Regions from separate parts of the Homo sapiens genome. Here region 1 is linked to region 2. Evidence: fine-mapped expression QTL. A gene starts in region 2. The other region holds a variant in brackets. All regions are shown on one strand. Distances are between the middles of the regions.

Region 1 (13,413 bases), 21 kb after region 2:
TGAGGAGGGGCGGGCGGGCAGCGACGGGGCGTGGGGACAAGGCTGTGGCACTGACACAGGACTTACTTGCAGTCTCCTGAAGGTGCACCTGCAGCTGCATGGCTTCAGTGTCTTCATTGATGTGGAGAAGCTGGAAGCAGGCAAGTTCGAGGACAAACTCATCCAGAGTGTCATGGGTGCCCGCAACTTTGTGTTGGTGCTATCACCTGGAGCACTGGACAAGTGCATGCAAGACCATGACTGCAAGGATTGGGTGCATAAGGTAGGTGCCTGCCTATGCTTCTGCGGTCCCAGCATTGGCCTGTGGTCCAGAAGATAGGGTCGTCTTCTATTCCTTCTTGTCTGCACATCCCGGCACACTTAGCCCTGAAGCACCTCCTTGGCCCAGCTGGAAGTCAGGAACCACAGCTCTGACTGTAATAGGACTTTAGCAAACCACAAGGGACAAGAGACTAGGCTTTGGCTCTCTGAGCCTCAGTTTTCTTTTTCTTTTTTTTTTTTTTTTGTTTTTGAGGTAGAGTCTCGCTCTGTCACTCAGGCTGGAGTGCAATGGCGTGATCTTGGCTCACTGCAAGCTCCACCTCCCGGGTTCACACCATTCTCCTCCCTCAGCCTCCCGAGTAGCTGGGACTACAGGTGCCCGCCACCACGGCTGGCTAATTTTTTTGTATTTTTAGTAGAGACAGGGTTTCACCGTGTTAGCCAGGATGTGAGCCTCAGTTTTCTTTTCTGCAAAATGGGGTAACTTACCTGTTCCACTCACCTTATAGAACTGTTGTGAGGATCAGAGAGACATAAAAATGCTTTGAAAAATAAATTCCATGAGAGACAGGAGAGCATAGCGACAGGCAGAATGGAATAGTTGTTGAGAGCTCAAAACTGAGAGTTTGAATCCTGGCTCTGGCCTTGGGCAAGTTACTTAACCCCGATAAGCTTCATATTTATTTCTGGAAAGAGGGTATAATAATAGTATCTAACTCCCTAGAACATTGTTATAAGGACTAAAAAAGCCAAAATTTGTGAAGTGCTTAGCAGAATGGCTGGCACATAGTAACTGCTCAATAATGGTAGCAATTATTATTATTAATATAATTATTATAACTACTATATCTGTTTAATTCATCATTGTATTTTCAGTGCCTGACGCATTGTAGGAACTTATTGAATACTAACAGAATGCATTGATGGATAGCTCCATATTGCATCTTCAGGTTATTAATCATTAATCGGTCAGTAGGAATTGGAGTTGGGGCTGAGGGATGCAGTAGTCATCTAAGAGACAGGATGAGACAAGCAGTCAGCTCAGAGACAAGAATATGCCCAGAGGGCTGGGCACAGTGGTTCACACCCGTAATCCCAGCACTTTGGGAGGCTGAGGCAGGAGGATCACTTGAGGTCAGGAGTTCGAGACCAGCCTGGGCAACATGGTGAAACCTTGTCTCTACTAAAAAAATACAAAAATTAGCCAGGCATGGTGGCGCACACCTGTAATCCCAGCTACTCAGGAGACTGAGGCAGGGGAATCGCTTGGGCCCAGAAGACGGAGATCACACCACTGCACTCCAGCTTGGGCAACAGAGTGGGACCCTGTCTCAAAATGACTAGATCGCATACAAGTTGGTGTAAATGCTGAGCCAGGTAAGCAAACATCTTGCTTGCCACAGGGGTTTGGAGAAGGGAGAGAGCATCAAGGTGTCAACGAAAAGAGTCAGACTCTATGAGCGACCATGGCCTGTGACACAGCCCTCAGGAGACCCTGAGAACACGTGCCCAAGGTGATCAGGGCACAGTTTGGTTTTATACATTTTTGGGAGACACGAGACATCAATCAATACATTTAAGATGTACATTGGTTTGGTTCAGAAAGGCAGGACAGCTCAAAGCAGGGGCTTCCAGGCTATAGGTAAATTTTAAATTTTTCCAGTTGATAATTAATTGAGTTTATCTGAAGACCTGGGATCAATAGAAAGGGAATGTTTAGGTTAAGATAAAGGGTTGTGGAGACCAAGTTTTATTGTGCAGAGGAAGTTCTCAGGGCAGACTTCAGAGGGAGTAGGTTATAAAATGTTTCTTATCAGACTTATAAGGGTGCCTGGCTCTTTGTTGATTATCTCCTGAGTCCGGAAAGAAAAAGAAAAAAATGGGGGGAAGGGGATTCTCTATAGAATGTGGCCTTTTCCCACAAGAGACAAACTTGTGGAGCAATTTCAAGATATGGCAGGGAAATATATTTGGGGTTAAAATATTTTTATTTCCTCCCTTATTATGTGATGTTATGCTAGAGTCAGGTTAGAAAGCAGACCACGCTATATAGGGTTAAAATTAAAACCTCCTCCGATAAGACTTTATGGTTTGTAGGGCATGACTCCCTAGGCTCCTTAGGTAGGAATTTGGGCAAGATAAAAAAAAAAAAAATCAGAGTTTAGTCCTCAAAGGACTGGAATAATCAGGGAAGACTTCATGGAGGAAGCAGGTCTTGAGAAGAATCTTAAGAATCTGGGTAAGTGGAATAGAAGGCATCCCAGGCCAGGGTAACAGCATGAGCAAAGGAATAAAGGTAGGGAGGAGAACAGTGCTGAAAGCCCACATACATCTTGGTACTGCTTTCTCCATATCACAGATGAAGAAACTGAGGCTCAGAAAAGTAGAATAATGTTCCCCTGGCTGCACTACTAGTGTAGAAATCAGAAAAGCTAGGCTTCAAATTCCATCTATCTGACTCCAAAGCTCATCACTTTCCCAAGATCCACACTGCATTCTATGGCACAGCTCTGAGGGGGTGTGAGGGGAGGTGATGGGGTAGGGCTGGATTCGGTTGACACCAGAGATGATTGTATCTCTTCACAACTCCACATCCAGTGATGTCATGTTGGTAGCTTGTCATCAGCCATGGTGGGAGTATTTACACCAAGGAAATTGGCAACCACTACAAATCAAAGTTTTGTTAGTTTGGTTGATTGGCTGGTTGGGTTTTCTTCCCCCATGAATAGCTAGTTACTATAAAGTTAGCAGCACACCACTGGCTGGATAAGAACCATGGAAACCAGGTAAAGCAGTGTCTAAAGGCAGGAGAAGACCTGTGCTTAAAGCACTGGAAATCAAGGAGCCCATGAAGGAGAAGATGCCAGGGCGGTGGGTCTTAGGATGAAGGCTCTGACACTGGAATGCAGTCCACATGGAGTGTGGAGTCAAGCCCCAGAGGCCATGTAGGAGGGGCTGAGTACTAGGCCTGGTTTGGGGAGGGGCACTGGGGCAGTTGAGCATCCAGGAAGAACATGGCTGATAACCCAGAGCACGTGGCAGGCAGCCTTTTGAGAGAAAGAAAAGAGTGTCTGTGAGCTCCATGAGACTTCAGACCTTGCCTCATTCATCTGTGTCCCTGGTGCCTAAAACCATGCATGGTACAAAGGAGGCTCTATGCAATTGCACCAAAAAAAAAAAAAAAAAAAAAGAGAGAGAGAGAGAGGCTGAGGCTGTAGAGGAGTTTATAGAACAATTGAATCAATGATTAAGCAGACAAGTGATACTGATGAAGCTGAGATGCCATGCCTGGGAGAGCCATACATATCTAGTAGATTTACCAGGTTAGAGGACTTGACTCCGTTTTTTTTTTTTTTTTTCCAGTAGAGATAGGGTTTCGCTATGTCACCCAGGCTGGTCCCGAACTCCTGAGCTCAAGCCTGGAGTTCAGTGCCTGCCTCGGCTCCCCAAAGTTCTGGGATTAGAGGCATGAGCCACCGTGCCCAGCCAGAGGACTTGACTCTAATTGTTTTCGTTCTCAACCAGCTAGGTGATCCTGAACAAACCATTATCCCTTTCTTTTATTTATTTAATTATTTTTTTTTTTTTGAGGCACAGTCTTGCTCTATCACCAGGTTGGAGTGCAGTGGTGAGATCTTGGTCGGCTCACTGCAACCTCCGCCTCCCGGGTTCAAGTGATTCCCCTGCCTCAGCCTCCTGAGTAGCTGGGACTACAGGCACACGCCACCATATCCAGCTAATTTATATATATATATTTTTAGTAGAGACGGGGTTTCACCATCTTGGCCAAGATGGTCTCGATCTCCTGACCTCGTGATCCGCCCGCCTTGGCCTCCCAAAGTGCTGGGATTACAGACATGAGCCACCACACACGGCCGCCATTATCCCTTTCTTGGCCAGCCTCTGAATCTGTGCGATGAATAATTTGTACTGTCTTTGGTTTTGTATAATTCTGGATGAAACAAATTTCTAAAAATTTCCAAATAAATTGCTGCAGGCTCAGGATTCATTCCAATGCTCAGCAGAAAGGCAGCAGGGCTTGGCTGAAACAGCCTGGACTTGGACTCTCGAGGCTTGAGTCAGAGGACCGGCCCCTCGTGGGCTGGGCGTGTGTGTGGCTTAGGAGGAAATCCCTTCCTCTCTGGGCTTTTTTCTCTCCATCTGTAAAATGGAGCGGCTCCCCAGGAAGCCAGTCAAGGACGAAGTTACGCATGTTCTTTCCCCAGGAAGGCTCCACTTCCCAAGAATGCTTGGCACCCCTTGTCGTCCCAGCAGATGGCAAAGAGGTGAGAGGAGCCTTTGTCTTGGACCGGCCCCAGAGGCTCCGTCATCCCTCTTTGGTTGTTTCTGGTGCTTAATTGCCTCTGGTTTTAAAACTCCTTTCCCTGAAGCCACATTAGTGGGTAATCAATAGGGAAAAACCACAAGTGAACTGCACTCAAAAAAGTAAAATCCCTTTGGTTCCCTCTTGAGAGGAAGAAAAACATTCAATAAGCACTTAATGGAACCCGATTACTAGCAAATAATTCCTCAGAACAACGCTTTGAGGTAGGTTTTATTATCCCCACTTTACAGAAGAGGAAATAATAACACCTATTACGTATTAAGCATACACTGCATGCAAAGCACTGTTCTAATTACTTGCCATGGAATGTTGCGCTTATTCCATGGAACAATCCTGAAGACAGGGACTATCATTAATCCTGCTTTATATATTAGAAAACAGAGGAACGAGTGTGGTAGTGCAGGCCTGTGATCCCAACACTTTGGGATGCTAAGGTGGGAGGATCACTTGAGGCCAGGAGTTTGAGACCAGCCTGGGCAACATGGTGAAACCCCATCTCTACTAAAAAATACAAAAAATTAGCCGGACATGGTGGCACACGCCTGTGGTCCCAGCTACTTGGGAGGCTGAGGTGGGAGGATGGCTTGAGCCCAGGAGGTTGAGGCTGCAGTGAGCCTTGATGGTGCCACTGCCCTCCAGCCTGGGCAAAAAGTGAGATCCTGTTCCCCTGCCCCCCGCCAAAAAAAAAAAAGAAAGAAAGAAAAGAGAAAACAGAGACTTTGAGAACCTATTATTTTTGCCTCAGGTCGTAGAGCCTGTGTCAGAGACTCAGTGCAAACCCCGATTTGATGATTCCAGAGTGCAGCCCTAACTGCTGTGCTATGTTTTCTCATTCATTCATTCATCCATCTATTAAATATTTAGCAAGGGCTAACTATAAGGGCTTTGTGAAAGATGCTGAGATATAAGGTCAGTGAAAAATAGATATGATCCCTCCTCATGTCTGGCAGAGAAGACAAATACTGAGTAATTTACCCATTAATTAATTAAAATTTGCAACTATAATATGTTCTGCAGAGCCTATAATAGGGGAACTGACTTGGTCAGGGCAGTGGGAGACAACTGCCCTGTGTAAGAGTTGATTGAGCTCAGATCAGAAAAATGAATGGGCATTATCAAGGGGGAAGGACAAGGAAGCTTATTTTGTGTGTCTGGGAGGACAGGGCAGGGGTAGAGTTTGAGAAGTGGACTGTGGCCAACCACATAGGGTCTCACAGGCCACATGAAGGAGTTTGGACTTTATTCTAAGACCATGCAAAGTCTTGAAGAATTTTAAGTAGGGGGTGACAGGACCTAATTTGTCAGATGTGCATTTTGCAAATATTAGCTACATGAAAGGGCAATGTGGAGAGTGAATTAGAGAAGACAAGCGTGGATGAGGAAAGACCTGGTGGGGGCTTAAAGATAATGGGGATTGGAAGAGGGTGGTAGTGGGGTGGAGGTAGGGAAAAATAGTGGATTTGAGAAATAAGTAAGGAGTACAATTGGCAGGGCGCATGATGGATCAACCTGTACGCAGGAGTGTGATGTTTTTCTTCTGACACCAAATTGTTTGGGGTTTTTCCCACACTAACCACTAATTCTCCAGCTTGCCAACACCAACTGGGTATCCCGCAATTCAATTCAATTCTGAAATGTCAGTCACGAGGCCCAGGCCCCCAGGCTGCCACATTTCTGTTTGATTTGGCTACAAATTCGGGGGTGCCCATGACACCCCGAGATTCAATTTGCCAGAATGACTCACAGAACTCAGGAAAGCACTTTACTTACTATTAGTTGTTTATTATGTCAACCTTAAATAATGAGATTCAGAAAATAAGACTAAGTATAGAGTTTCTTTGAGTGCAAAGTTTGAGAATAGCCACCCAGTAAGCATTGACTCCAAAGGCATGGGGTGAGCATTCCAAACTGGAGAAGTTAAGGTTTCACTTCCACAGGCAAAGAGAGAGGAATTTTAGCAGGATTACAACATTTTCCATACAAGACCAGTGCGTATGTTACAGTGCTTTGATTGGTTATAGATTGCTACATTCCAAGGAAGATGACTTTATTACCCCCTGAGAAAGGGTGGTGATCTAAGTGGGGATCTAAGGGAGTCTTATCTCTGGTGCCATTTGGTCTTCCTAAGTAATTACAGAAAAAAAAAAAATAGGTGGAAGTTGCAGCTGCATGCCCCATGACTCAGGCTGCAGAGACCAATTCCTGTCAAGGCTCAGAATAACTTAAAGTTCCAAGAGCTTTAGGTTTGATTTAACAAAGCTTGAATAATAGTAATAAATAATATTATTAATCTCAAAATCCTGGGCTCAAGTGATCCTCCTGCCTCAGCCTCCCAAAGTGTTGGGATTACAGGCGTGACCCACCATGCCCAGCTGAATTATTTAATTTCACAGTTATAAAGGACACAGCTCAAGAATAGCCAAATGGAAGAGATACATAGGATCTCTACGTATGGAGGGTGGAGGTGTGGATGCCATGCCTTCTACCACCTTCCCAGCACCTACACCTGTTTATCAACCTGGAGGCTCTTCAAAACCCCTTGTTTGGGGGTTTTTATGGAGGTTCCATTATGTAGGCATGATTGATTAAATCATTGGCCATTGGTGATTGAACTCAATCTCCAGCACCTCTCTGGAGGCTGGGAGGTGGGGCTGAAAGTTCCAATCCTCTAGTCATGCCCTGGTCTCCCTGGTGACCAGCCCTCTTCCTGAAACTATCTAGGCTACCCCCATAGCACCCCCCGGGCCCCCAGTGGGGAATCATCTCTTTAGCATACAAAGACACTCATCACTCAAGAGATTCCAAGGGTTTTAGCAGCTCTGTGCCAGGAACTCTGGGCAAAGGAAAAATATTTATTTTTTATTACACTACAAGGGTTAAGGTAGACATCAAGGTGGACATCAGGACTGGTGTCCTGCCCTGGGCCCAGCCTCGGGCCAGTGGGCCTCCCAGCACCTGCCTGGCTACAAGGGTCCCTAGATGGGTACAGGGGTATCTTCCTCCTTTCCTTTCTTTCTCCAGGAGATTGTGACTGCTTTAAGCTGCGGCAAGAACATTGTGCCCATCATTGATGGCTTCGAGTGGCCTGAGCCCCAGGTCCTGCCTGAGGACATGCAGGCTGTGCTTACTTTCAACGGTATCAAGTGAGCCCCAGGGCCCTGGGACCAGGGGGGTAGGGTACAAATCACCATGACAGGCAGAGTGTGGGCAAACAGCTGACTAGCAGCTCCCTCTGCCCAGCTGTCTGAACCACATTGGCTCCTGTGCCCACAGGTGGTCCCACGAATACCAGGAGGCCACCATTGAGAAGATCATCCGCTTCCTGCAGGGCCGCTCCTCCCGGGACTCATCTGCAGGCTCTGACACCAGTTTGGAGGGTGCTGCACCCATGGGTCCAACCTAACCAGTCCCCAGTTCCCCAGCCCTGCTGTGACTTCCATTTCCATCGTCCTTTCTGAAGGAACAGCTCCTGAAACCAGTCTCCCTGGGCTGAGACAACCTGGGCTCTTCTTAGGAAATGGCTCTCCCTCCCCCTGTCCCCCACCCTCATGGCCCACCTCCAACCCACTTTCCTCAGTATCTGGAGAGGGAAGGGAAGTCAGGCTTGGGCACGGGAGGTTAGAACTCCCCCAGGCCCTGCCATTGGGTTGTCTGTCTCCGTCATGGGGAGGGTCCCTGCTCAGTTCTGGAGACACTGGAGTTGGGGTGGGGGTGGTTCTGCATTCCCTTCTCCTGCTGATAGCAGTCAGCTTGAGGAGGATGACGGAAGGCAGCCTCAGACAGGAATTAAGGCAATGCCCAGGCGGGCCTGGGCACTGTATTCTGAGCAAGGGCCTGGGCCCAGGAGCCAGCCAGGGATGAGTGCCATCATGGCTCTCCACTCAGACTGTGCCTGGCCCCTGCACTTACAACTTCCTGCCGCTCTGTGGCCTTGCCCTGTAATCACTCAGTGCCCTTAGCTAGCCTGACTAAGTCCCAGATCCCCTACAGCTTCCTTCGGTGTGGTATCTTTTGCCACATCCAGGGCGAGGGTTGAGGCAAACCAGCCCTCCCTCTGACTTCCTTGTCACTGCAGCCAGCTTTGCTGCACTTGCTGGTGCACAGGAGCCTCCTGTTTGGGCCTGGGTCTGGGCATGGGGAGGCCGTGCCTCAAAGCCCACCCTACCCCATGCCTTGGTGCTGTGCCTCAGGCTCCTTCCTGGTCTGGCCCAGCTGGCTTCCCCAGCCCCTCAGCCATCCAGGGCTACCCACTGCTTACTCAGGGACCAGGCAGCCCCCATGGCAGTAAAAGCAGCCTAGACAGAACCTGCAGCTCTGTGGAAAGAGGCAAAGTCCTGAAAAGGCAAAGGGTTGTCACTTAGGGCAGCTTCTCCAACTTTAACATGCATCCAAGTCACCTGGGAATGTTGTTAAAATCAGGAGATCTGGGGTGGGGCCTAGGACTCTGCATTTCTTACAGATTCCCAGGTGAGCTGATGCTGGTGGTTAAGGGTAGCAAATCTCTAAAGCACGAAGCCCTCACAAATCTTTGCCATTTCCCAAACACTCCGCTCCATGGTCTCCAGTCATCAGAGCAACTCTACCTGGTATTATCATCCCCATTTTACAGATAATGACACTGAGGCTCAGAAAGGTTGAGGATAAGCCCACTTTCCTGTCATTAGTGGCAGCCCCAGATCCAGACCTAGGCCTCCTGGCACCCAGTCCACTGGCAGTGGAATTGCTTTCCTGAGAATCATTCTGAGGCTGGGCTATTGCTTCTCCCTTGCTTCAAAGAATCTAGCAGCGGGGGATAGGATTTTGCAACAAAAAGCTGACCCAGAGGCCATACAGAGCAGGAATATCCCATTGCCCCCTCCTCCACTGGGTTCAGAGGGTAAGAAAGCACCCTCCAATAAACCCAGGCTCCAGGCCGTGGGGGCTGCTGAAGGCTCTTTCCCCGCAAGGGCCAGGTGTTGACACCTTAAAGCTGGCTGCGCCCCCAGCCCCACTCTTGGCTGTGCTGGCCAGGTGACTCCTAGTTCTTGGCCACATCATCAGAAAGTCAAAGGTCTCACTCCAGGTTTGGGGCTCCTTCCTTCCACTCCCCTCCCTGCCAGAGTCTGTCTTGGCCAGTGCCAGCCTCGATGCTTTGGTTTTGACCCCACCTGATCCTCCTTTCCTCATGCAGCACAAGTGCTCACCGGGGCCAGAGCCAGGGCATGGATATGACAAGCAGGGCAGCCTGGACACTGCCCTCACAGGACAGCGCCAATAACAATACAGTGTCTGAGTATCTCCAGGGGATGATTTCTGGCTCTTTGTCTCCAATCAGTCCCACTCCCTCCTGAGGTCCCCAAGGGCAGTATTCAGAGAGGTTTCCTGC[G/A]TTTTATTTCTATTTGGTATACCCTCCACTGTTGTCCACTGCCCTGTGTGGCCTTCTGGTTGACCTCTGCCCGATCTTCTGTCTCTCTGAGGGAATCAGAGTCCAGCATCCAGCCCCAGCTGGAACAGCTGAAGTCACAAGCCTCCTCTAAGCCAAGGCCAGTGTGTTCAGAGGTGACTGCCACCCATACTAGGACAAACACAGCTCAGATCACCAGGTCAAGCACCTAGGCCTGGCTTCTCCTGAGACAGAGGACTCAGAAGTGGCCTTTCCTCCAAAGCCTGCTCAGACACAGGTCTGTAGGGCCAGGGTGTTCTGCTTGGCTGGGCTGCAGCTGCTACCCCTCGGTTGGGGCTGAGTCAGCCAGATCCTCCCCCTACTTCTCCCCAAGGGCCAAGAACTGCTCAGGGACATTAAAGGTCAAAAGTCCAGCCACACTCATTCATCCTTTCCCCAGGCCCATGAAGAGAGGCATCTCATTGTAGAATGTATGAGGAAGTGGGAAGTATCTCAGAGAATCAGCTAAGTTTCCTAACTTGTCCATCCAAATGTGATCACCACGATTCAACAATTTGGGGCATTGCTGATCTAGCCGTTCCTAGTGGGGCTTGCTCAAGGTTGCACAGCGAGTCAGTAGAAGCCCTGGCTGGCCCCACTTGGTACCAATCCACCAGGCAGCTCAGGGCTCCTGCCCAGCCCAGCAGCTTCTGTTGTCTAACGTATGGCAGGCAGACTGGGAGCAGGAAAACAGAGGGCCCCAAAGCCCAAGGCACCAGAAGGTTTGTTTCAGTTTGCTGAAGCTGATTTGTAATGATTGGCACTCTTCAGCCAGGGGAGTGGGTAGGCCATAGCCAAGGATCGATTCCCCAACCACAGCAAAGGCAACACTCTTCCTCCAGAGATCACCAAGCCCCTCTTACCTCCCTCCCTCCTTCCCAAGGCTGGCACTAACCAGGTACCACATTCATTGTTAAGGAATGGCTGATGACTGCTACACGTGTTGGGAACCTGGTTGGGGCTGTGCAGTTTGGGCTGGAAGGAGAGATGCCAGCCCTCGTGCTGCCTCTGGTCCCTGAAGTGTCACCTCTCTCAGGACCTCTCCTCTGGCCTGTGGGGTTATAAGTGATGGATAGCAGAAAGGGAGAACTGACTCCTGTCCCAAATAGCTCCTCTGCCACCTGTCCTGCAGTGGGCCTGTGTGGGTTATGATTCTAGATCCTAGACAGAGGCTGGGTCAGCTGTGGATGGGGTGGTGCCTTGGTCTCTCTTGACTACCTCGTCCAAAGAGAGCACTGCCCTTAGACAAGAGTTGCTTGTCCTGCTGTGGGCTGGGCTTCCAGCTGCAGACCTCCAGTTGCTTGGTGTTCACTTTGCTCCTCTTGCCCTCTGTCTTCTGGTCCAGGCAGATCAGGGGCTCTGGGGAAACTGCTGGAACTCGAGGTGAGGATCAGCCTTTTCCAGCATCCTGTGAGAGACCAGAGAGAGAGTTTGGATTTCATGTGGGGAACCCTCAAGGCCTGTCTGGAGAAGTGACACAGGATTTACTGGGGTGGGCTGGTCCAGGTAGCTCTCCTGAACCTCCTCCTTCCCCAAGCTGAGAAGCTGAGAGCTGGAGGACAATATCCAGGGACATGGCTCTGGAAAATAACTTTTTTTTTTTTAAGAGACAGGGTCTTGCTCTGTTGTCCAGGCTGGAGGGCAGTGACATAATCATAGCTCACTGTACCCTTGAACTCCTGGGCTCAAGTGATCCTCCTGCCTCAGCCTCCTTAGTAGCTGGGACTACCAGTGCATACCACCATGCCTGGGTGATTTTTTAAATTTTTTATACAGACAAGGTCTTGCTATGTTGCCCAGGCTGATCTTGAATTCCCGGGCTCAAGTGGTCCTCCTGCCTCAGCCTCCCACAGGATCGGGATTACAGGCAAGAGCCTCCACGCCCGGCCATGAAATATAATTCTTAATATCATACAGGAAAAAGTCAGCGGGTCAAGCTAGCCTGTGGCCCAGCCACAACTAGCTGACAAAGCTTCCTGGCCTTCCCTTTAACACAGTTCTGCTGCCATAGTTCCATCTATAAAATGGGAATGGAGGGAAATAGGGGAACTGGGAGAGAGAACACAGCCTTGCCAAGCAGCAATGTTAGCCTGATCCTTCCTCCACCTAGCTCGCCATCTCGCCCTTGGAAAATGGCTCCTGGAGGATTAGGCAGCCATCTGCAAGGAGAGGGGCAACCTGGGACAAGACACCCAGAGGGTAAGGATTCCAGGAATGAAGCTGCCATTTCTGGTTGGGAGGAGAAGAGGAAACTTTTAAGAGAAAGGGCTCCATTATGAGCATGGGTTCAGGGCCCTGCATTACCCAATCAGAACAGCCGGGATGAGCAGGAGGCCAGCTCCCAGGAGGAAGGGGAACCCCTTCATAAAGTTCAGAGTGGCTGGGTAGAGTGAGTTGAAGATGCCGGAGGCCGTCAGCATGGCCAGGCTATTCACACAGGCCACAGCAGAAAAGAGAGCACCTGTGAAGAAATAAATACCATACTCTGGAGTCCGAAAGGGCCATATTCCAACTCTGGCACCACCACCTCACAGCTGTGTGACCGGGAGTAGTCACTTAACCTATGTCTCCCCTTCCTCACCAGTAAATCCTGCTACATCATGTACTGTGACAAGGATTCAGTAAGGTCATATGTGGACAGTAGCTGGCACAGAGGGGCTACTAAACAAATGGCTGCTATTAAATCCACATTAAAAGTACATGTGATCTGACAGAACCCAGCACATAAAAGAAAAAAAAAGTACATGTGATATTGTCTGATGAAAGCTTGATGGAAATGGCTTTTTTCTGGTTTATCCTCTTTGGAATCATCTCCTGTTTGGGATTAACTGCTGGTCTGATCAGTTCCAATATTCATAGCGGTGTCACCACTGAATAGCTTCTTATCCTTTGGGTTCCTGTTCCTCCTTCTGCTAAATAAGGATAATACCTATTTCCTAGATTGTGAGCAACATTAAGTTCACATGGAAATCACCCATCACTGGGCCTGGTCCCCTGGAAGTAGCTAGTTAGTAAGGGCTGTTCTTTTCTCCTGTTTCTCTTGACATCTCTGGGCACAGAGAAAGTGCTGGGAAAAAAAGTTTAGGTGAATGAATGAAGACACATGGATTCTGGGGACACCAGAACCCACAGTGGGCTCTGTATGGCACCAGAGTCTCTGTCATCATCAGATCCTCATTCCAGGACAGATGGAAAAAGATGAATGTTTCCAGACTGGGGCATAAAGACCCAGAGGCTGGAGAAGCTGTTCTTTATAGATATACCAGGAGAACCCACAGTTTACAAAATGTGCAACAACCCAACAGAAGTTGAGATTAAATTCTGTCACATCTAGAGGGGTCTGTGATGTCATCAAAAGCAAACCACCCACATCACAGATGAAGAA
Region 2 (15,752 bases):
TGTATTTTTAGTAGAGACGGGGTTTCACCATGTTGGCCAGGCTGGTCTCGAACTCCTAACCTCATGATCCACGGGCCTTGGTTTCCCAAAGTGCTGGGACCACAGGCATGAACCACCGTGCCTGGCCTAAATTTTCTTTTTCTCACTCTGTTGCCCAGGCTGGAGTACAGTGGTGTGATTTCTGCTCACTGCAGCCTCAACCTCCCAAGCTCAAGCAATCCTCCCACCTCAGCCTCCTAAATAGCTGGGACTACAGGCACACACCACCCATAAGTTGCCCAGCTAACTTATTTATTTTTGTAGAGATGGTGTCTTGCTATATTGCCTAGGCTGGTCTCAAACTTCGGGATTCCAGCAATCCTCCCACCTTGGCTTCCCAAAGTGCTGGAATTACAGGCATGAGCCACCATGCCCAGACAAAAATTCCCCCCCTTTTTTATTTTGTTCTGTTTTTAGAGATAGAGTCTCACTCTATTCCCCAGGTTGGAGTGCAGTGGTACAATAATAGCTCACTGCAGCTTCAAACTCCTGGGCTCCTGGGCCACTTTTCCACAAGAAGTGTGTGCTTTTGAATTTCCTTTCAGTTTCTGCCCTTCACTATCTCTCCTGGTCTTGCTGCTCCCCATCCTAGACCCTAGACAGAGACCTCAAGAAAGGCTCACCCTAGGGGTGGGTTTGGGGAAGCACAGTGACTGGTTCCCCAAGTGCTCAGGAGTCAGAGCTACTAGGATTTCAGATCAGGATGGACAAAAAAGCTGAGCCAGAACCCCACCAACTCTTGCCCCTTCTCTCTCCTCCAAGACCCTAGTCAACTCCAAGGGGCAAAGCAAGCCTCACCCACGGAGGCTGGCCTGGTAACTTTGTCATCATCAGAGGAGTTCAAGTGTCTGCTTAGCTGCTGGTGGGTTGCTGGGGGCTGCTTAGCTCAAGAGGAAGGGTAGCTCTCAGGAGGCCTTCCCCAGCCCCAAACCGGTTCACAGAGAGGTCCTGAGCACAGAGAGGTCCTGAGCCCAACATGGGTTGGACACGGCGAGGCCCTTCTCTGTCCCTTCTCTGTCCCCCTCACCAACCCATTCTGACAGTCCAGCTTCCTCTCCTTTACCCAGACAGGGATGTGTCTACCCCAGTCAGAACAATAATTTTAAACTCGGGGCTAAGGGACCTTTATTGGGCTGGGGGAAGGAGATGGGAGGAGGGAGCTACAGAGGGCCCGGCCATGTGGGCTCTGACTCCTACAGATGGCCAGGAGCTGGGCAGCCCAGCCAGTACTGAGCGATGGAGCGTGGGTAGGGAGGGTCCACAGTGTCCACTCGCCGTGTGCGAAGATTGACTCGGTAGTACTTGTCTGGAAGAGAGGAAAGCAGAGGATGCGTGAGGCCCAGCCTGGCCCTGCCCACTCTTCCCTTGAGAAGTCTAGGGTCTCTCCCAGAAGGGAAAGTGAACATCCATGATGCAGCTAAGGACTTCTGGCCTGGCTTTCTGTGGTCACTACTTGCAGGCTGCGTTCAGCCCTTGTGCACCAGGGACAGCAAGGAAAACCCAAGCTAGACCAGCTTCAGGGGTGGCAGCGGCTCCTACCTCCAGAGAAGAAGAAGACACTCTGGATGGGTTCACAGGTGGCAGGCACAAGCCAGTCCATCCTGTAGTCATCATAGTTGTTGGCTCCCAAGTTGCTCTCCTCACTGGAGAACAAGGACAGCCACGTGGCGCGGGATGGCCGGCGGGAGTTCTGGTTGCGGCCACGGCTGTGGCCTCGTTGTGAACGGTAGCCTTTGCGGTTGCGATGCCTAAACCTTTGTTTCTTGGCCAAGGAGGGGCGGGGTGCCATGCCTGAGATGTAGATGCGGCCAGCCATGGCTGCGTCCACTTGCCCTGGCACACCGTGCCAGTCCCGGCTAATGAACTGGGGCTGTCTGGTACCAGCTGTGGCAGGGAAGGGGTGAATGAGAGGTCTTGGGGGTCCGAATCTTGCCCCTTCCAGCGGGGCCATTAGAGTTCATCTGCTGCACCTTGCCCAAAGACACACAGCAGCGAATGGCAGAGCCAGGCCTTTGACTCTCAGTCCAATTCCCTTCCCCCTGTGCTTTCCCTCCACCATATCACTGGTGTCTCGACCCCACCCCCCCAGGCCCCCTAAACTCCTCAGCCACAGCCCCTCCCTCTGCTGGCTGTGCTCTCAGCTGTGCTAGGCAAAGTCCAAGGTGTGGGGTCCAGGTAGAGCTGAGCTTTCCCCAAAAGGTCAACAGAAGCAAAGTCTGGCCTGAGCAAACAGACTTTGATCGATAGCTCCACAACCACAGCCCCCTCCAGCCGGCCTGGCTCTACCAATACCAAGGGGTTTCAGCCCTTTTGAGGGAGAAGCAAGACTTGCCCTCTCTCCATACCAGAGGTTCTGCCCCAGAAGAGAAGCTCGAAGATGTCCTCCCAGCTGTCCCGCTGCATCATGGCAAAGTGTTCAAACACAGCCGACAGGGAGCTGCCTTCACACTCCTCCTGACTGGGCTGGTGCTGGAACTGGTACTCCCAGTACTGTTTCCCTGAGGAGCAGGGTGGTGGGCATTAGGAGGGCTGGGCCAGGGCAAGACTGGAGATCCCAGAGGCTGTTGAAGTTAGGATCTCCCAGCATGAGGTGGGGGTCAGGGGTGGGCACATGCTGAGGCCTGTCCCCAGTGAAATGTGAAAGGAATCCAAGACTGCTCCACTGCCTGCTCAGTCTCCCACCACCCCCTGAGTACCCTTGAAGAAGTAGACCCGCTCCCGGCCACTGTAGCTATGGGCAGGGAGGGCCAAGGCTGCATCCACGTTGTCCGGGATGCCATCGAAGCCGTCAGAGATATTTCGGGGGTAATCAGGGTCCAGGACACCATCCTCAAAGCGCCAGTACTGACTACCCTAAGAGGTGGGGAAAGTGAAAAGGGGTATGGAGGCCGCTGGCTGGGCACAGAGGCAGAGTCCCTTGCCCTAAGGCAGCCGTTCCCAGGTCCAGGTTCACTGCCCAGGACCTGGAGTCTTGGGGCTGCCCTGTGCTCACAGAGCTCCCACCAGGTCCTGCAGGGCCCTGGGTCCAGCTTCCCTGTCCACCCTGTCCCTGGGAGCAATAGCTCTCAAACCCTCCCTAGATGCTTTCTACCCTGGCCCACAGCCCCTGGCACCTTGAAGAGGTAGGTCTTCCCCTGACAGTTGATGCGGGTGAAGGCGGCATCGATGGGGCCCTCGATGCCCCAGACATCTCGGATGAGCTTGGGGTACCCAGGCCTCACTGCCTTTTCGTCCAGTTCATAGCAGTACTGCCCTAGAGTGGAGGAGATGGTGTGAGAGCAGGGACGCTCCTGGGGCAGACCCGCATCCCCAGTACCTGCCCTGGATTCACCTCGGAAGGCAAAGAGGGAACCGTTCTTGAGGTCGGTGAAGGCGTCGAAGGGCTTCCCACTGCACAGCTCCTCCTCTGCTGGGGGCTGAGGTCTCCCTGGATGAAGGGTCTCAGGCCTTGAGTCTATCCCCTCAGGCTTAGAGGCGCCCACCTCAGGCGCAGGGGCCTCTTCCTCAGGTTTCAGAACAGGTGTCTGCTCAGGATTCCCTTTGGACTGGGCCTGGAGGTCAGAGGTCAGGGAGGGGCCCCCCACCTGTTCATGGACAGTGGCATTGTTTTTCTCCTCGCCATCGTCATAGACCGTGTACTCATCCTCCGGCATAGTGAACACATCCCCGCGAGTCACTGCAGAGAGTGGATGGTAGTGAGTCTCCAGCAGCAGGGGGCACCCCAGCCCACCCACCTGGGCTCTGAACACACCTTGGGGCTTGCACTCAGCCGTATAGTCTGTGCAGCAGCTCTGGTAGTAAGAGCAGAGCTCGTCACACTGGCACTTCTTGTCCACGTTGAAGCCCTCAGTGCAGCGGCCCTTGCATGACTCTATGAGGAAGGAGTGTCAGTCGGTGCCACCAAGCCCAGACCACCCTCGCCCTCCCTACATTGACCCAGATGGCCACCAACACTCCCCTGTACCTTGGTCAGCCAGAGCAACCCATGCCAGCAGGGCCAGTATGAGAAGGGGTCTCAGGGGTGCCATGGCAGGGCTTCTAGCTCAGTGCCTGGCAAGCTGGGCTCTGGTCTCCCTGAAGTCTCCGCTCTGATGCCTGAGGAAGGGAGGGAGAGGCAGAGACAGGGAAGGAGGGCACTGGAGAAGAGGAACTGCCTTTTCTGCTGCTCTGTTTGCTCAACCTCCAGCCCATCCCCTCTGCCCCCTCCAGCGGCTGCTGCAGCAAAGGTCACATTCCTGGAACACTGGGCCTGGGCGAGCTGGGAGATAAGACCTTTGCCAAGCTCAGAATCATTAGGTCATCGGAAGGGGAATTAGCACCGTGGATCTGGAGGGCAGAAAGAAGGCTCATTGGGCAACAGCTTTATCTCTCTGAGTCTTAGTTCATTTTCAGTAAAATAGGATTAACAAAGCCTTGCTTCATGGGGTGTTGGGAGATTACATGAACTGGACCAGACAAAATGCCCAGTAGCTGGAGCAGCCACAAATTCCTTCTCCAAACATAGCTATTGATCCATGATTGTTTGATCAGACACATCCCTGGCTGGGTGCTCATTCGCCATTATTTATTTAGGGCAGGAAAAAGGGAGTGGGAGGAGAGATTGTAAGCACTCTGGGGAATTTTATTTTTTAGCATAAAAGAACAAAGTTTCATTTCTGGGTTCTTCTCTTGGGTGCATCAATCTCCCCAGGCTGGAAATTTGGGTAAATATCAACCCACTGGACTGGATTTAATTTCTGAGTCTTTTCTGAGCAGGCCACTCCCTGTCCCCAGGCTCAGTCTCCCCATCTGTAAAGAGTGGGCTTGTTCAACACACTTTTAGACTCTCGAGAGAAATATGATCCCTCTACCTGGAAAATGCCCACTGGCATGAAACACCTGATTTTGTGCCCAATTTCAGGTGTCCACAGAACTTCTGAAATCCTCCCATCACCTGAAAAAAGTGATCCTGAGATTTTAGCTGACTTTTTCTGTTCTGTAATCAGAGGGGACTGTGATTTGGGCCAATTTCTTCCTCATGGGCTTCAGTGGAGTCAGCTGTGGAATGGAACATCAATTCCCACCCCATAGGCATGTTGTGAGGTTTCGCTAAGAAACAGCCATAAAAGGGCCTTAAGAGTTATGATGATTGTTTTAACCATTTAGTAGGGAGGGGGCATCCAGCGGTGTTGCTCCCACGTACCGATGTCACGTGGGGCGGGGAGGCGGGGCGGAGAACGGAGAGCGTCCTCTCATTCTCCACCCCCTTCCTCCAAGTCCAGCGCAGGGGGAGGTGGCTGCGACTGACTGAGGGGCTAGGGAAGGCTGGCCAGGGGCGTGGGCGTGGCTGGGGACGGCTTGGGGGTGGGGCTGCGCAGGAGGCTGGAGGAGCCCCGCGGGACCCAGAGGCGGGGCGTCGGCCCGGGGACCACTGCTCCTCCGGGGCGTGGCTGCAGGAGGCTGGAGGAGCCCCGCGGGACCCAGAGGCGGGGCGTCGGCCGGGGACCGCTGCTCCTCCGGGGCGTGGCTGCTGCCGAGCATCTCCCAGCTCAGCCGAGCCCGTGCCCAGGCCACGCTTTGTTCCAGCCGCCGCCTCCTCTACCCTACGGCGTCCGGAGCCATCCCTCGCCTGCTCGCTCTCTCCTTTCGCCCACTCCCTGCATCTGGGCCTGCATCACCTTTGCCAACCGCTCCCCCGATCCTGCCGACACTCCTCCCCCAAACTTCTGACCGGCACCCTTGCCTGGTACCCTTCTCTCCATTCCTCCCCCTCCATCTTCTTTCCCCGACCCCTCTCGGGTCCCTCTTTTCCCAAAACCCGGGTCTCTCCGCGTGGCCCCGCCTCCAGGCCGGGGATGTCCCCCGCGGCCCCGCGCCCATGGTCCTGACGCTGCTTCTCTCCGCCTACAAGCTGTGTCGCTTCTTCGCCATGTCGGGCCCACGGCCGGGCGCCGAGCGGCTGGCGGTGCCTGGGCCAGATGGGGGCGGTGGCACGGGCCCATGGTGGGCTGCGGGTGGCCGCGGGCCCCGCGAAGTGTCGCCGGGGGCAGGCACCGAGGTGCAGGACGCCCTGGAGCGCGCGCTGCCGGAGCTGCAGCAGGCCTTGTCCGCGCTGAAGCAGGCGGGCGGCGCGCGGGCCGTGGGCGCCGGCCTGGCCGAGGTCTTCCAACTGGTGGAGGAGGCCTGGCTGCTGCCGGCCGTGGGCCGCGAGGTAGCCCAGGGTCTGTGCGACGCCATCCGCCTCGATGGCGGCCTCGACCTGCTGTTGCGGCTGCTGCAGGCGCCGGAGTTGGAGACGCGTGTGCAGGCCGCGCGCCTGCTGGAGCAGATCCTGGTGGCTGAGAACCGGTGAGCGCGCCAGGCCGGGGTTGGGAGAGCGCCGCGTGGTGTGGACAGTTAAGCGCCTGCGTTCCCGTGTGCCTTGCGCCGTGCCTTTGCCTCCCTCACCTCTCTGACTGCCTGCACTACATCTCTGTTAGGGGTCAGCCTGTCTGTTTCACAGATAAGGAAACTGAGCCTTGGGAAAGTTTAGTGACTTGCTCAGTGGATCACAGTGAACTAAGATTTGCTCCCAGGGCTAGTGGGGTGAGGAATGGAGTTACAGGACAGGAGTCCGTCCCTGGCTCTATGGATGGAGATGGCATCCTATTGCCAATTCTCCCTCTCCCCCGCCCCCCAAGCCCACAGCTCTCCTTCCCACCGGCTTGGGTTCCCGTCTATGACACCTTCTCTCGCCATCATCCCATCCCTCTCCCAATGAGAGAAGAAGGGAAACACAACGCTCAGAAAAGAGGGAGGGAGACCTCTCCTTTCCCTCCTCCCCAGGCTGTAAGGCGTGCTGGCCTGAGGCTGCTTACTCCCTTCTTGCCGCCCCAATCCAACTTCTGCTCCATCCTTCATTCTGGTTCTTGCAACAGGCCAGACATGATCTCATTCTGCAGCTGCTGATGGGAAACAGTTTTCTGCTGGGAGGCATGGGTGGGGGAAGAGGACACCGGGGTGCAGAGCCCGGCGGGGACCAGGCAGAGTGTGTGTTCTCTCCCTTCACCCCACTTAGCACCAAGATGCCGCAAGAGGGTCAAACAGAGGCCTGGTTGCCACTCTTGCATGTCTCTTGGGATCTCTCCTGGAGTATGAAGACCTCCAAGGACTCACTTTCCCTCCCTTCTGATGCCAGAGCAGACCAAGCTGTCACACTCCAGTCTCATGCTGAAGTCTCCAGCTTCTCAAGCTTAGAAGAGTTTTTGGAAGAGTCACTTTCAGCTCATGCAGCTCTCACAAGTGTGAAGGGAGTGGGTTGGGGGTGTTTTCCTTGCCATTTTCGAAAAGAAAAAAATTACCTGGTGATTGGTGGAAAGATACAACTGTCAAAAATGCATGAATGAAGCAATTTAGGTTGGGAGACCAAGATAGGGTTCTGCTTATTTGGCAAGCCATTAACCTCCCATCTGACATCCGTTGCCATGATGGGGATAGGCCATGAATTTGGAGGGGGTAGCAAATAAAATATGTGCTCACTGGGTGTGGTGGGGTCAAGGCTGGTAGGTGTGCCCTGCAGGCTTGCTATGTGGAGTCAGGAGCTATAACTACAATCCCTGGAGAGTGAGTACAGCCAGCAGCCCAAGGAGAGGAGGGTTGCAAGATGCAAACAGTACTGCTATATCTCAAGGTTAAAAATGGCAATTCTCACCTGGTTCAGAGTTACCGAGAGAAGAGTCACTAACCAGTGTCCCTGGTCTCAAGAAACGCACGCTGGTCTCTTCAGGACCAAGGACAGAGCACAACGTGCGTGGTTGCTATCACAATACTTCCAAAGAAAGGCAGGATCCCCGCCAGGCGCCGTGGCTCACGCCTGTAATCCCAGCACTTTGGGAGGCCCAGGCGGGTGGATCACCTGAGGTCAGGGGTTCGAGACCAGCCTGGCCAACATGGTGAAACCCTGTCTCTACTAAAAAAAAAAAAAAATACAAAAATTAGCTGGGCATGGTGGCGGGCATCTGTAATCCCAGCTACTGGGGAGACTGAGGTGGAAGAATCGCACAGAACCCGGGAGGTGGAGGTTGCAGGGAGCCGAGATTGTGCCATTGCACTCCACCCCACGCTGGATGACAGAGCAAGACTCGTCTCAAAAAAAAAAAAAAAAAAAAAAGGCACTGTCTATAATCCTAGCACTTTGGGAGGCCAAGGCAGGCAGATCACCTGAGGTCAAGTGAAACACAAAAATTAGCCAGGCATGGTGGTGGTGCGTGGTGTGTGCCTGTAACCCCAGCTACTCTGGAGGCTGAGGCAGGAGAATTGCTGGAACTCGGCAGGCAGAGGCTGCAGTGAGCTGAGAGCGCGCCACTGCACTCCAGCCTTGGCAACAGAGTGAGACTCCATCTCAAAAGAAAAAAGAAGGGGAGGGTCCCTGCACCCCTTGTAGGCTGCATGAGAATGGGGCTGGAAAGAAGAGAAGGGGAGTGACACACTGCGAATTTATGAAATGTTTTTCTCCTTCACCAACCAAGCCCCCACTGCCTCATCTCAAAGAAGGCTCTTCTGGGCAAGCATGGTGGTTCATGCCTGTAATTCCAGCACTTTGGGAAGCTGAGGTGGGTGGATCACTTGAGGCCAGGAGTTCAAGACCAGCCTGGGCAACATGGCAAAAACCCATCTCTACAAAAAATATACAGATTAGCCGGGCGTGATGGCATGCACAGTCCCAGCTACTCAGGAGGCTGAGGTGGGAGGATGGCTTGAGCCCAGGAGGCGGAGGTCACAATGAGCTGAGATCATGCCACTGCTTTCCAGCCTCAGTGACAGAGCCAGACCTTGTCAAAAAAAAAAAAAAAAAAAAAAAAACAATTCCATCAGTGTGCCTACCCCTTTTTGCCACTTCCCTCTTGCTTTCTTCTTCTCAGGATGCTATTGCACCCATTGTCAAGGAGCCTAGGTCACAGTTTTCCTGACTTCCAACTACCAGAAGTCCAACAGAATATGGCTCTTCAAATCTGGCCCCACAACACCCAGTGAGGTCCCCATATGACTGCTAGCCCTCTATATTCACAGTCCACCCCCTTCAGGGGATCTTAATGAAGCTATCCTCAGAGTAGTTAAATGGCTTTCCCAGGAATATTCAATGAATAAATGGAGGAGACAGGTTTTTGAAATCACAGAAAGGCGGCCAGGAGCAGTGTCTCATGCCTGTAATCCCAGCACTTTGGGAGGCCCAGGCGGGAGATTGCCTGAGGTCAGGAGTTCGAGACCACTCTGGCCAACATGGTGAAACCCCGTCTCTACTAAAAATACAAAAAATTAGCCGGGCTTGATGACGTGTGCCTGTAATCCCAGCTACTCTGGAGGCTGAGGCAGGGGAATTGTTTGAACCAGGGAGGTGGAGGTTGCAGTGAGCCGAGATCGTGCCGCTGCACTCCAGCCTGGGCAAGAGTGAGACTCCATCTAAAAAAAAAAAAAAAAAAAATCACGAAAGCCATTGCACATAAATTCAAAAAAGTGGAAAAGCACACAAAAGGTATACAGTTAAAAGTTATTCTCAGCCAGGCATGGTGGCTCATGCCTGTAATCTCAGAACTTTAGGAGGCTGAGACAGAAGGATTACTTGAGCCCAGGAGTTTGATTGAGACCAGCCTGGGCAGCATAGTGAGAGCCCTGTCTCAATTTTTTAAAATTAAATTAAAAATTTTTTAAAAGTTCTTCTCAACCAGACCCCCTCTCTGGAGATAAACCACTATAACAAGTTTCTTGTATATCCTTCCAGAGAGAGTCTCTGCATATACAGGCATTTGCATGTATATTATATAGACATGTTTGCAATATATATACAATCTTCCCCTCCTTTGGAGCTGGGATTTGAATCCAGACCTGTGTAATTCTAAAATATCTGCCCATTTCACCAGACCCACAGCCTCTCAGACCACAGAAGAACTGGGAGCTGGGTGAGTAGTTATCACAAGAGTGCAGCACAGTTCCACTCTGTAAAGGTGCCAGGTGCATAGGGAAAAGTGAGGGCTGGGGCATCAGGAGACTCAAAATAAAGTCCTAGGTCTGAATTGATATGTTCCTGAGCAAGTCCTTCCCTTCGCTGGGCCTCAGGTAAGTCCTCTGAAAATGAGAGTGTTGGCTGGCCAGGGGCGGTGGCTCACGCCTGTAATCTCAGCACTTTGGGAGGCCAAGGCAGGCGAATCGTTTGAGGTCAGGAGTTCAAGACCGCCTGGCCAACATGGTAAAACTCTGTCTCTACTAAAAATACAAAAAAAAAAAAAAAAAAAAAGAGCCAGGTGTGGTTGTACATGTCTGTAATCCCAGCTACTTGGGAGGCTGAGACATGAGAATCAGTTGAACCCAGGAGGTGGAGGTTGCAGCGAGCTGAGATTGCGCCACTGCACTCCAGCCTGGGTGACAGAGTGAGATCCTGTCAAGAAAAAAAAGAAAAGAAAAAGTAAGGGTGTTGGATTAGATAATTTCCTTCTTATCTTTTGTTTTTGTTTTTGTTTTTGGTAGAGACAGGGTCTTTCTATGTTGCCCAGGCTGGTCTCAAACTCCTGGACTCAAGCAATCCTACTGCCTTGGCCTCCCAAAGTACTGGAATTACAGACATGAGCCACTGCATTCAGCCAGATTAAATAATTTTCTTATTTTATTTTTCATTTTTTGAGATGGAGTCTCCCTCTATCACCCAGGCTGGAGTGCAGTGGCACGATCTTGGGCTCACTGCAACCTCTGCCTCCCAGGCTCAAGTGATTCTCATGCCTCAGCCTCCCAAGTAGCTGGGATTACAGGCACCTGCTACCACGCCCAGTTAGTTTTTGCATTTTTAATAGAGATGGAGTTTCACCATGTTGGCCAGGCTGGTCTCGAACTCCTGACCTCAAGTGATCTGCCCACCTCAGCCTCCCAAAGTGTTGGGATTACAGGCGTGAGCTACCGCACCTGGCCACATTAGATATTTCTTAAACATATCCTGGCTCTTACATTCTAGGCATTTATGCAGTCAGATGTCTAGAAACGCAAAATGAAGGTGAAGGATCTTGAACTCTGGAGACAGGCAGATCTGGGTTCAAATCTCAGCTGTGCCTCTCAGAAACTGTGTGACTCTGGGCATGTCATGTACCCTCTCTGAGTTTTGGTTTTCTCATTGGTAAAAGGAATAACTGGGCCAGGTGAGGTGGTTCATGCCTGTATTCCCAGCGCTTTGGGAGGCCGAAGTGGGAGGATTGTTTGAGCCCAGGAGTTTGAGACCAGCCTGGGCAATATAATGGGATCCTGTCTCTACAAAGTAAAAGAAAACAAAACAAAAAAAATCAGCCAGACATGGTGGTACATGCCTGTAGTCCCAGCTACTCAGGTGGCTGAGTTGGGAGGATGAATTTAACCTAGGTGGCCAAGGCTGCAGTGAGCTGTGAGCTTATGGCATGTTCCGGACTCAGGTAGGTTCTGCAGTGGACACAAAATCACATGCACTATGGTCACTGTGGTGCCCTTTGGGCAAGGACTCCATTGCTGGCTAGGCCTCTACCTCTTTGGCAGTAATGTCACCTGTGGAGGACATCACTTTTTTTTTTTAGACGGAGTCTCACTGTGTCACCCAGGCTGGAGAGCAGTGGTATAACCTCGGCTCACTGCAACCTCTGCCTCCTGGGTTCAAGTGTTTCTCCTATCTCAGCCTCCTGAGTAGCTGGGATTACAAGCGCACACCACTACACCTGGCTAATTTTTGTAATTTTAGTAGAGATGGGGTTTCACCATGTTGGCCAGGCTGGTCTTGAACTCCTGACCTCAAGTGATCCTCCTGCCTCAGCCTCCCAAAGTGCTGGGATTACAGGCATGAGCCACTGCGCCCGGCCATCTGTGGAAGACATCATTTGTGGAGGTCAGTAAGGCAGGAAGCCTGAACCTCTACCAGGATGTGGCAACTCTCCCACCTGCTCAGCAGGCCTCCAAGTTCTCTCTGTTGGATCTGTCCTCTCCACCACAGCCAGAGTGAATTTTCTAAAACCCAAATATGGCCAGGCCACTCCCCTCCCTGAGAGTTTTCAGTGGCTTCTCTTTGACATCAAGATAAACTACAAATGCCTTGAGGTGCCTCAAAAGGTCCCCAGGTCCGATCTCTTTTCACACTCTCCCCTTGAATCTTCTGCCTCAGCCATGGAAGTGTGGGCAGCTCCCCAAGTGCACCAGCTCTCCAACACCTCCAACTCTTTGCATATACCTGTGCCTGAAATGCAACTGAAATGCAATCTCTCCTTCTCCTCCTGACTAATGCCCACACTATTCTCTTGCCCTAACTCCATAAGGAACCATTCAGTATATCTAATGTGTATCTTTCTATCTGTGTTCTGCTAAAATCTTTAAATCTTTATTCTTGGTCTTGTGTGCATGTATTTTTAATGTATATTAATAGTGCTGTGTCATATAGCACATTCTATTTCTTACTTTTTCCCACTCAGTGTTGGGTTTTATTGGTTTTTTTGTTTTTGTTTTTGTTTTTTGTTTTTTGGGTTTTTTGTTTGTTTGTTTGTTTTGAGACAGGGTCTTGCTCTGATGCCCAGGCTGGAGTGCAGTGGCCCAATCATGACTCGCTGTAGCCTCAACCTACTGGGCTCAAACTATCATCCTGCCTCAGCCTCTCAGGTAGCTGGGACTACAGGCCTGTGCCACCATACATGGCTAATTTTTTTGATTTTGTAGAGACAGGGTTTTGCTATGTTGCCCAGGCTATGTTGTCCAGGTTCGTGTTGCTGTGTTATCACCTGCTCAGTCACTTGGACCTCCCTGCAAATCCTACAGAGTAGGCACCTGCCCATGTTACCTGACTCTCCCCAAGCTTGATACTGATTGCCTCCAACTTCCTCACACTACAAATGACACTGCAGTGAACATCCTTGTCTAAGTGCTTTTCTCTATCTATATGACAATCTCTTTGGGAGAGGTTGCCTGTATTGTTCAGCTTCTGATTTTGCCCATCTAACAGGTGTAAAGTGGTAGCTGGTTTTCTGTTTGCTTGTTTTCTGCCAGTGAACATTTTATTCAAGGTATGTGTGTGGAGAGTGGTCAGGGACAAAGGAGAGTGGGAATGGCCTTTGAAATAAAATAAAATGATTTAGGTGAAGAAACTCTAGGAAAGGGTAATTTTCTCCATTTAGATCTTTTTTTTTTTTTTTTTTTTTTTTTTTTTGAGACGGAGTCTCGCTCTGTTGCCCAGGCTGGAGTGCAGTGGTGCCATCTTGGCTCACTGCAAGCTCCGCCTCCTGGGTTCACACCAGTTTCCTGCCTCAGCCTCCTGAGCAGCTAGGACTACAGGCACCCGCCACCACGCCCGGCTAATTTTTTGTATTTTTAGTAGGGACAGGGTTTCACCATGTTAGCCAGGATGGTCTCGAGCTCCTGACCTTGTCATCCACCCGCCTCGGCCTCCCAAAGTGCTGGGATTACAGGCGTGAGCCACCGCACCCGGCCTAGATCATTTTAAGAAAGAAAATGACAGATAAGGTTTCTGGTCTATGGAACTAACAAACAAGTAGACTATTAATATAATATCAGATATTAAATGCCCTGAAGACAATAAAATAAGGTAATGAGTTAGAAAGTGATGGGGAAAAGCCTTTAGATTGGATGATTGGAAGGAAGTAACATTTGAGCAGACATTGGAATGACGAACCATGAAGCGGATTTTGTTGAAGAACATTTCAGGTAGCGATAGCTATTGTTTTAATTTTCATTTCTCTGATTACTAATGAGTTAGAGCATCTCTTTATCTGGTTTTTCAAATTTTGGATTTCCTCTTGTCAATTGCCTGTTTATGTCCTTTGCCCATTTTCTTTTGAATTTGTTGCCTTTTTCTTCTTGATTTGAATATTTGCTGATATATTCTACATATAAACCCCTCATTGATTTTTTTCTTTTCTTTTTTTTTTTTTTCTGTCTCTCTCTCTCTTTTTTTTTTTTTTCTTTTGACACAGGGTCTCACTTTGTTGTCCAGGATGGTCTCAAGTGAGCCTCCCACCTTGGCCTCCATGTGCCAGGCATTGTGCCAAGCATTCTACAGGCATGAGCCACCTTGCCCAGCCTGGTTTTATATTTTCCCTTTTTGGTTTTAGACATCGCAATACCTCTGGCATTCTTTCTATTCCTCAAACACGTCAGCTCCTCTGCCCTCAGGCCTTCATCCTTGCTCCTCTCTCTGCCTGTTATGCTCCTCCCAGATATTTGCACACAGGGATTTCTTCACATTAAGCTTAGATGTCACCTCTTCCCACATACCCCTCCTCCAGGCACACGCCATTACATCATCCTGTTTTGCTAGCGCCAAGGCCCTATCACTACGATCTGGTTCACTCATTGTTTTCTTGTCTATGTCTTCCTCCATCGCCCTGAGGATAAGCTCTGGCCAGTCTCTGTTAAACCTCAGCCCCTAGTGCAGTGGCTGGCACAGGGGACGTCCTCAGGAAGCATCTGTTGAATGAATGAATAGATATGCCCCGGTCATGGGCCATGGAGTGAGGAAAAGGCAAGGCTAAGAGTGGTGTGCTTCAAGTGACACTTCAAATTAGGACAAGTTAATATTTGTTGAGTTTTTACCATGTGCCAGGCATTGTGCCAAGCACTCTATAAGGCTTATCTCATTAGTCCTGATAATAATCCTATGAGGCAGGTATTTCTATTTTCTATTTATGAGATAAGGAAAGCAAGGTAGAGAGATAAAGGAAGCTGCCCAAAGGTCTCCTTTATCCCAGTTAGAAAACGGGCTGAGAAGAAACCAGGACCCAGGGGATCTGCTCCTGAGCTGAGGCTCTTAGCCACCACACATACTGCCTCTCAAGGGGAGGAGGGAGGGGGAGAACGGCTATGGCCAGAATAGAGCACCCTTAGAATCCGAGAAGTGGGGTCCTCCCAGGGGAGGAGATGAGGGTGGGGAGCAGGGAGGGGAATGCTCTCCCCTATATGAGGCCGGTGAGGCCCAGAGAGGGTTAGTGACCAGGCCCCAAACGGGCAAGCCAAGCTCCCCAAGCTGCGGCAATTCCACTGTCCCCTTCCACTTTCACTGGGCAGAGACCGCGTGGCGCGCATTGGGCTGGGCGTGATCCTGAACCTGGCGAAGGAACGCGAACCCGTAGAGCTGGCGCGGAGCGTGGCAGGCATCTTGGAGCACATGTTCAAGCATTCGGAGGAGACATGCCAGAGGCTGGTGGCGGCCGGCGGCCTGGACGCGGTGCTGTATTGGTGCCGCCGCACGGACCCCGCGCTGCTGCGCCACTGCGCGCTGGCGCTGGGCAACTGCGCGCTGCACGGGGGCCAGGCGGTGCAGCGACGCATGGTAGAGAAGCGCGCAGCCGAGTGGCTCTTCCCGCTCGCCTTCTCCAAGGAGGACGAGCTGCTTCGGCTGCACGCCTGCCTCGCAGTAGCGGTGTTGGCGACTAACAAGGAGGTGGAGCGCGAGGTGGAGCGCTCGGGCACGCTGGCGCTCGTGGAGCCGCTTGTGGCCTCGCTGGACCCTGGCCGCTTCGCCCGCTGTCTGGTGGACGCCAGCGACACAAGCCAGGGCCGCGGGCCCGACGACCTGCAGCGCCTCGTGCCGTTGCTCGACTCTAACCGCTTGGAGGCGCAGTGCATCGGGGCTTTCTACCTCTGCGCCGAGGCTGCCATCAAGAGCCTGCAAGGCAAGACCAAGGTGGGTGCAGATGTGGGGTTGGGTGGATCAGGGGTTAGAGAGCCTTTGGGAAGGTTTCCCAGAGGAA

The links.
Region 1: its variant is fine-mapped to the expression of SARM1 in whole blood (TOPMed, PIP above 0.99).

What each region holds. Positions count from the first base shown.
Region 1 is chr17:28,388,278-28,401,690 of GRCh38, forward strand. It overlaps SARM1 (sterile alpha and TIR motif containing 1), which reads left to right. Exons shown (of 9, transcript NM_015077.4): 7 at 73-262; 8 at 7,628-7,749; 9 at 7,880-13,413. The coding sequence ends at 8,009. SLC46A1 (solute carrier family 46 member 1) reads right to left here. Exons shown (of 5, transcript NM_080669.6): 4 at 12,333-12,489; 5 at 6,365-11,436. The coding sequence ends at 11,379. Among named protein-coding and RNA genes, the nearest start is that of SLC46A1, 11 kb to the right of the region's middle. RefSeq lists enhancers at 7,404-8,087, 8,771-9,454, 10,219-10,308. The variant G/A (reference allele first, on the strand shown) is at 9,972.
Region 2 is chr17:28,366,137-28,381,888 of GRCh38, forward strand. It overlaps SARM1 (sterile alpha and TIR motif containing 1), which reads left to right and starts at 5,558. Exons shown (of 9, transcript NM_015077.4): 1 at 5,558-6,366; 2 at 15,067-15,685. The coding sequence starts at 5,897. It overlaps VTN (vitronectin), which reads right to left and starts at 4,171. Exons shown (of 8, transcript NM_000638.4): 1 at 4,004-4,171; 2 at 3,791-3,910; 3 at 3,371-3,715; 4 at 3,153-3,292; 5 at 2,736-2,892; 6 at 2,385-2,537; 7 at 1,579-1,923; 8 at 1,148-1,345. The coding sequence starts at 4,067. The coding sequence ends at 1,233. RefSeq lists silencers at 5,291-5,620, 5,941-6,110, 13,920-14,120.